Linked DNA regions of Homo sapiens: all the other regions are linked to region 3. Evidence: fine-mapped expression QTL. A gene starts in region 3. Each other region holds a variant in brackets. All regions are shown on one strand. Distances are from middle to middle.

Evidence for each region. PIP is the estimated chance that this variant, and not a neighbour inherited with it, causes the effect.
Region 1: its variant is fine-mapped to the expression of ZFP36L1 in whole blood (TOPMed, PIP above 0.99).
Region 2: its variant is fine-mapped to the expression of ZFP36L1 in whole blood (TOPMed, PIP above 0.99). The same link has a PIP of 0.9 or more in blood mononuclear cells and monocytes.

The regions. Positions count from the first base shown.
Region 1 is chr14:68,597,261-68,600,063 of GRCh38, forward strand. It overlaps a transcript of RAD51B not described here. Among named protein-coding and RNA genes, the nearest start is that of RAD51B-AS1, 87 kb to the right of the region's middle. The variant G/T (reference allele first, on the strand shown) is at 1,694.
Region 2 is chr14:68,680,171-68,682,811 of GRCh38, forward strand. The region is part of intron 2 of RAD51B-AS1 (RAD51B antisense RNA 1); the gene reads right to left. It also overlaps a transcript of RAD51B not described here. Among named protein-coding and RNA genes, the nearest start is that of RAD51B-AS1, 3.9 kb to the right of the region's middle. The variant A/G (reference allele first, on the strand shown) is at 1,240.
Region 3 is chr14:68,791,859-68,794,661 of GRCh38, forward strand. It overlaps ZFP36L1 (ZFP36 ring finger protein like 1), which reads right to left and starts at 1,209. Exons shown (of 2, transcript NM_004926.4): 1 at 1,024-1,209. The coding sequence starts at 1,080. RefSeq lists silencers at 1,367-1,436, 1,457-1,656.

The DNA.
Region 1 (2,803 bases), 190 kb before region 3:
CCAGTGGGGAGTGGCCAGATCAGTCCCAACACTGAAATTGTTTACTGTCATCCACTCCTGGTTGTTAGGGGACATTGAGGATGACAGGATAGAGAGTAGGGAAGGAAGGACCAGCCAAGGAACATTTTCCCTATAAAATGAGACTCCCACCCTACTCCTGCCCTTGTTAAGACTTCATACACTATGGAATACTATGCAGCCATAAAAAGAACAAGATCGTGTCTCTTGTAGGAACATGGTTGGAGCTGGAGGCCATTATCCTTAAGAAACTAATGCAAGAACAGAAAACCAAATACCACATGTTCTTACTTGTAAGTGGGAGTTAAATGGTAAGAACTTATGAACACAAAGAAGGAAACATCAAACACTAGGGTCTACTCATGGGTGGAGGGAGAAGAGGAGGGAGAGGAGCAGAAAAGATAACTATTGGGTACTGGGCTTAATACCTGGGTGATGAAATACTCTGTTCAGCAAACCCCTGTAACACAAGTTTACCTATGTAACAAACCTTCACATGTACCCTCCAAACCTAAAATACAAGTTAAAAAAAAAAAAAAGGACACAGATGTAAATTGACCCTGATGGAGAGAACTCTACTCTATCCTTGCCAGGTCACAAGAAGGTGAGATATTTACTTTTCAAATGATTGATGCTGAAATGGAAAGGACTGTATCTCGGGGGCACAAACCCAACAGAGTAAATGAAGATCCTACTGCTTCAGCTCCTGGGATTTGTTAAAGTGGGGACCAGCTTAGAAAAATAGACGGCCGTCCTAGAGACCCATGGCAGTCTCGGTCTGATTTTAAATCTAAATTCTCAAGTACAAGTAGCTTCCCAAGAAGAGAAAGCTACTTCTACATAAAGAGGTGGTATCAGTAGGAACTCCTTAAGCCTTACCTTTTTATTATTGATGATGATGAAGTGAAGCTTCCTGTTGATATCATTGTCAGACCAAGCACAGCACACCAACTCAAACCTCATTCATTCATTCATTCATTCATGTGTCCTTTTAACAGACGTCTACTAGACACCTTGTGTGTCCATGAACCAAATACCATGCTTAAGACCAAGGATTCAGAAATGTGTTAGCTGTCATTCCCCCTCCAGGAACTCTCAGCCAGGAGGAGATGTACTCAGGGAAAAGGAGAAATCACAGTATAACCATTGTAAAATCCTTTCTGATAAAATCGCAGAGTGTCTAATACTCCTGTTCCACATACATAAAAAGAAACTAAAGTGTAGAGAAGGGAGGAAAGTCCCGAATTTAGTGTGTAGCAGATCCAGGAGTAAAACAAGCATTCCTCGGTCTGGGGTAAATCCCACCGGGACTGTGTTGAGACCCAAATTCCTCTGAGTCCACGGGCCCCTTCAAGTCAGATGAAATTCCAAACAAGCCAGAGCCTAGCTGAACAGTTCCACGGTGCCGGGCTCCAGTGTGTTCTGGAAGGTTCTCGTGGGCTGTGCCTCCAGAAGACGGAGGCGGGGAGGAGCCCCACAGGCCCAGGGCAGTGTCAGGTTCCCCCTTTTCTGTCAGCAGGCATGGAAGAGCCTTTAAGAAAATGGAGTATTATTATTATTTGTTTGTTTTTACAGTGACTCAGTCTGTAGTAACTGGGTTAAAGTCCGCTTTGAGAAAAGGAGAACAAAAGACCTCCTGTTAGTGCTGGAAGTTTGCCTCTTAAGATATCACTGA[G/T]AGGAACTGGGAAGAAAAAAAATCCCCAGCAGGGCAGAGGAAGCTGCAGGCCTTCAGGAACACAGCAGCACTTTGGAAAGGAAAACACGGCCGACTTTCATCTCCTGCGCCGTATCTGAGCTGGCCGCTCCCTTTGCCGCTGCTTTATGGCCCACTGCGGTGCTGACCGTCGGACATCGGCCAGTACCCTATTCCCACACTCTTTGAACACAGGGGGCTGCCAGGAGTGGTGGTAGTGTGGGCATATCTCCATAGCCAACCAACCCCAGGCTGAGGAGGAGGGAAAGGATGTTGCCATACGAAACATACTACGTGCTGGACGTTATTCTAACATTACATATCATAACTCATTTCGTAAACACCAAGGAGGCTAGCATCCTCCTTCTCCAGCCACAGCAGAAGTTGCGCAAGGTGGAAATCTGGCCCTGCCCTGTTTAGGAAACTCATTGCAAGTAGAGGAACCGTGGGGTGAGTAGGCTCCCAAATGGGTAGGACCAGATTGCTAGGTGGTCTCTTCCAGGTTGCAGACTCAGGCCATCTGACTCTAAGACCTAAGAACTTAATCCTACTCTCTTCAAATGAAAACAGAAAGTCAGAGGAAGACAAGAAAGTTTTTCTTCTCACGACCTCCCATCAGATCCGCCCCATCTACATTAAACTTGTACCCGTGTCCTTCATCAATCAGCTCAGTGGAAATGTTATTCTCACCCTTGGCCACCCAGATCAGGAAATCGGTCTGGACCATGAGTGACATGCTGGTGTTGGCCTTCTTCACCATAACTATAAGAAGCTGGAATGTTCCCCTCCAAGGCTATGAAAGAAGGATGGAGACAAGAAGGAAAAGACAGAAATTCTGTGAAAGTCTCAGGTCCTTCCTCCTTTCGGAACCACTTCACATAATCCTCTTCCTCCCCAGGGGCTCCCGAAAGATTAGGCTTCACTTGCAGGTCCCAGGCCCTGGTCCTGCAGAGTGGTTGGGCCTTTGGGGTCTCTCAGAGAGCCTAATCATTCTGTTTTCTGAACAAGTCATAGTTTTGCTGACTTCTGACCAAACCCCCATCGAAACCCAAGAGTGGAAGTGTGATTGTGGTCATCTATACCCTGTCCCCC
Region 2 (2,641 bases), 110 kb before region 3:
TCTCTAGCACTTCCATAAGTCTAGATAATCAACACAACAATAAATCAAGCCCTGAGTATAGAGTGTGCCAATTTCTGTGGTGTAAATATTCTCACCACGGCCAATTTCAAGCTACCAATGTGATGTTACTGACTGTGGAATTGGGAAGAGAGTCAGTAGTATACTACGCTACAGTCTTCCCACCATATGTGTAATAAACATAACTCAAGCACATAGATGATAGTAAACTGTAGTTTAAAAAAATTAGGATCTGATCTGTTGTTAGTATTTATTACCTTTTTAAAATATAATTAATTATATGTTTATATCATTTAATTTTTAACAATGGCTGTGTTCCACAGCCAGCTTGCAAAATTCCTGAAAATTTACCAATCAGCTTTCACAAGCCAATGCAAGCTTCAGCACACCACCGTCCCGTTCCTCTTCCCGTTAGCCCAGATGGGTCCCATGCTATCTGATGGCCACACCCTTTGTTAAATAGCTCCAGTTAGTCCTGATCCACGCAAATCAAGAGAACATTAGTCAATGCCCAGTTTCTCCAAATAAACAACGTCAACAGCTTCAGTCCAGTGGAGTGACTTAATGATCTGTTTCCTTCAATAAACTGTGATTTCTGAACTCAATTCAGATACCTGAGCGTCGCAGTAAGCTGAGAGTGAGGCCCAGAGGCGTTCATAATGTAATATACTAAGTTTAAACTTGGCAAGCAGATGACATTGTGAGAAATGGCTTTTTTTAGGCCGATTTTGGGAGTTTGGGGTGTTTTTTTAAGAGTTAAGCCAAGGCAAAAAAATAACCCTTGCAACACATCACTTCACAGCTGGTCAGCCCAGGAGAGGCTATTCTGGGATATTCAAGCTAAAGAACCTCTTTTTAAACTCCAGGCAAACTGGAATCAGGATGCAGGGTTTTTATTTTTGTCTGTCATGGATTTACTCTGTCCAGTAATCCTGTACAGTAATCTCTGTCCAGTTTGTTCCCTGGGTGGGCCTCAGTTTACCTTCTGGAGAAGTCAAGTCAGCTGCCTTTACCTAGGGCATTATTCGATTTTTGAATTGTGGAGACTGAAAAAAGATAGTTGCTAGGGTTTATCAGAGGGTTTGGAGTGTCTACTCGAGGTGTTCCAAATCAGCGGAGAGTCAGAGAGGGGTGAAGTTGAAGTAGGATCTTATAAGAAATGACAAATGAACAAGATGTAAGAGAGAGGAGGAGGAAGAGGAATAGGAAGGTGAAGGAGGA[A/G]CAAGGGCCTCCAAGCAACGTACCATGAAAACATCGGGCAAGTGGCTAAACTGTGCGTCCAGTGTTCACTTTGCTAAGACGGAGAGTGAGGGCATAAGATGATTTAGTTACAGAAGAAAAGGCAGGCAAGATGGAGCAGGCAGGTGCCTTTTGTCTGGGTTTGACAAGAGAGTTTCCTGGGTAGGGAAGGAATGTGATCAAAGTTATGATTCTAAGACCTGCCTGGAAGATGACCAGGGAGTGGGCAAACTTGGAAGCAAAACCAGCCTCCCAAACACCTGTGTAATATCGTGTCCTGGGCCACTGTATAAATAACCTCCCTCCTGTTCATCAGTAGGCTTTGTAGTTCTCAGCCTCTCTCCTCTGTTGAAAGTGTGAGCCAGCCCTTTGCATGAAGAAGCATTAGAAGGGATCACTGCATACTTCTTTAATTGTCAAGAATGCATACATGCCATGCATATGAAAGATATAGTGGACTTTGGGGACTGGGGAGTGGAGCAGGTTGGGAGTGGGGTGAGGGATAAAAGATTACACCTTGGGCACCGTGTACACTGCTTGGGTGATGGGAGCATCAAAATCGCAGAAATCACCACTGAAGAACTTATCCATGTAACCAAAAACCACTCGTACCCCCAAAAATATTAACATTAAAAAAAAGAATTCCCACCGTGCCTTAAACTTATGTCATCTCACTTTTTTTTTGTCAGCAGCCTAGAGGGAAGGGGACACAATCCCAATTTTAACACCAAAGCAACTGAGACCTACAGATATTAAATTACTTGCTCCAGATTACAACTGAGACTCAAACCCATCGCCTGGCCACAAGTCTGGTGCCCTATCTACACCAATCTGTCTCCGGTAAACCTAACTAGCTAGTCAACTTTTCCCATCCATAGGCCAGACACCTTTTGAAATAACAAACCATCTGATCTCTAGAAAAACTGAAAGGCCAGTTCCAGTTGTCAGACACACCAAGCTCGAGAGAGTCTCTCCCAAAAGTTCTCTGGAAAGCCCAGGGATTCCGAATTCCAAAGCCAGCCAAATTTGAATTTCCTCTATAAAGAGATAGTCCCTCCTGGTTTAGAACATAACCTTCCTCATTAGGCTGGTTCCATGTTTTGTAATAACTTTTGCTTACACCACAAAATTGTCATAGATTACGAAAACACAAAGGCCTTGGAAAAAAGGCCCAGAGCCCCCTGGAAGTCATTATTTCTTCCTTTAGCAATTGCTGAGTTAAGCACCATAAATATGGTTCCCATCCTGCTCCCCTTCCCCCGCCCTCCCCGCCCCCCACGATCAGCTGGACATATGTTAGGAAGAAAGCAGGGACGTGGGGGTGGAAGAAGATTCGCATGTCGTGAATCTTGAGCACTGAAAAGAAAAAGTGGGGAGAGGGCGG
Region 3 (2,803 bases):
GGGGCGTTGGCAGCTGCACCAACAGGAGCAGCAAGCTGGGAAAACAGAGCAACATGACCCGACGTGTTAAGAGAAGGCAAAACACTTCAGCAATTAAAAAGTAGCCCAGCAGCTTCACCCTTTCAAATTGGGAGGGGGAGGTTGGAAAGAAATTTAACAACATCCATAGACTTTTGCTATGTACATTTAAACCGCAGTCCTGGAACATTCCGAGTTTAAAACTTGCTTTTTCAACACTGGCTGACAAGCAACATGTTTTAAGGAGCCCCCCATTAAATCCTTACTCGCGGGACTCTCGAGTTCAAGCCAGCATTTTGTCGCCACCTCCCCCCCCAACCCCGCCCGCAATCGATGAGCCGCAATGCCTCGGCAACACAGGTAAGCGGGTCAACCTGAATGCCTCTTTCACCCCAAAGTTTGCTGCACGATCGGCTATCGCGGGAAGAAGCCCAACGGAGCTAGGGCGGACTCAAGCCCCACTGCAAACTTGTTCTGCAACATCTTTTTGAATCACAACTTGGCCTTTCTTCCTCGCATATCCCCAGCTCCCCCCAAAGAGTGGAGGAAAACATTGTCCCGAGACTCACTTCCCCGAGGGACCTCCCACTCCCAACCCCACGGGTGGGTAATGCCGCTGGACAGACCTAGGGCGCAGACTGGGAACCCGATCAGACCAGCAAACCTGGGATCCAGCAGCACGTTACGTAAAACAGGATCGCCCAAAACTTGTCCCAATCCCAGCCCTCCCCCCGAAGCCCCCGGGCTGCCCTGCCAGGCAAACTTCGCCCCTCAAAACCCTGGCCTCCAGATTCACATGTAATCCCCGCCAGCAACTGTTGAAACTCAAAGGGTGGGAAGGACGGGGCCAAATTCCTTCAAACTTGGGAGAAATGCCGGAGGAGAAAAGAATCATCTCGCTGCACCACTTTCCCCATTGCCTTCCAAGACCCAAACTTTTGGGGGTTCTTTCTTAAGGCAAAAGAAAAAGACTTTTTGAAAAGCAAATGCTCCGCCCCCCTTTACCTTGCATAAAACTTCGCTCAAGTCGAAGATGGTGGCAGACACGAGGGTGGTGGTCATCCTGTGCGTTCGCGCGAGCCAGGGGCGAGGATCTGGTGTGTCGCGAAGGTCCCGGTGCGGGGAAGGCGCAGCCTCTCCTGTCTGGAGTCCCACACGCCAGTTCCCGGCGCCCCTCGCCTTTCTGACTCCGGGCTGGGGCGCGCAAAGCCCAATTTATAAAGTTCAGATTTGGTGGGCCGGGGGGAGGAGGAGCTTTAAACTTATTTAAATGAGGAAGAGGAGGAAAAAGAAGTTGATTGACACTGGAGTTGAATCAGCCATGCGGTCAGGCGGGGAGGGGGGGCAGGGGGAGGAGAAGAAACTTTCAAAAGGAAGAAGGGGGAGGGGAGACGAGAAAAGAAGGCGGAAAAAAAAAACCCCACTGTGAGCCGCGCACAACTTTTTTTTTTTTTTCTTTAAGAGGAAAAGTTTCAAGTCGGCTGACTTCCCTACCCGGCGCTTCAGGCGCCCCCTCTCCGGGGCCGCGCGGGCGCAGAGCGGGAGGGGCGCGCCCCCTCCTTTGTCAGCCTCAGAGCGCGGCTGTGACGTCACTCATTCCACTCCCTCCGGGGTTCTTGTTGTCATGTTGTTGTTTTTTGTTGGGCAGGAAGGCGGGCTCGACTTTCTCTTTTTGCCAGCGGGAGCTGAAGCCCGTCCTTAGCGCCCGGGCCGCGGTTTCCATCTTGAGCTGGCGGTCTCCTTGAAACTTCCCCAAGTGTCTGCACAACTTACCTTTTCCCGACTTCTCTTCGACACTCGGCTCCCTTCGGCAAACCGGGCAGGCCGAGGACATTAGAAATTTGGGACGCACAGAATGTTCAAGCCTAGGATTTTATGTTGCTGTTTTTTTTCCAGCGGGGCGTAGGGTGGGGCGCGCTGCTGGGGGGACTAGGGAAACTTTTTCCCCAGGAGGACATGGTCTGGCGGGGGCGAGCGCGGCACAATTTAGTGCGCCGCACGCGTCGACACTCGCGCTCGCTTTGCAGCCGGCGCTCTCCGGGTGTGGGCGGGTGGGGGGCGCCGCAAAAAAAGACCACAACCCGGGACGATTGTTTGTTTTACCAGGCCTAGGCGTGCCGTTTCTTTTCACGCATCCAATCTTTAAACTTTTTAGTCAAGAAAACCCTAATCCTTCCTGAATGCCCCTTCCTCCCAGAAAAAGCCCACCGAGCAACTCACTACTTTCCACGCGCGCTCCGAATTCTGGGCGGCGCCACAACCCTCCCTCCTCCTCCATCCTCCCCACACACACCTCAAGACTCTAGAACAATGAAAAAAGGTTACTTTGGTAAGAATGAAGGTAAAGAGGTGGAGGGAGGCGGCACTTTTAACTTATTGTTGCTTCTCTCTCGCCCCCACCGGAGTGGAACATATGGCTTGTCACGCTGCGCCGTTTTGGCGGGAGGTGGAGAGGGGGACATGGGAGCCACGAAACCGAAGGGCCCGCAATGGAGCATGACTCCCTTGAAAATGATAAAATATATACTGTTAGGTTTGGATGCCGCCCACCCAAATAAAAAGTTAACGAGTCCCCCACCCGCCCCCTGCGCCTTGGCCCGACTGCTGGCGTGATGACCCAGGCGGAAGTCGCAGGGCTGCGCTTCTTTCCGATTTCCACGCGGGCTCCGCCGCCCCCCTCGGCCCTCGCACGTTTCTTCCCAGCACTCGAGGCCGCCGAGTCTGTTATGAAACCCGGTGCTGCGGAGTGGCTAAGATTGAGTTCCATTGCGATGTAATTAGGTCA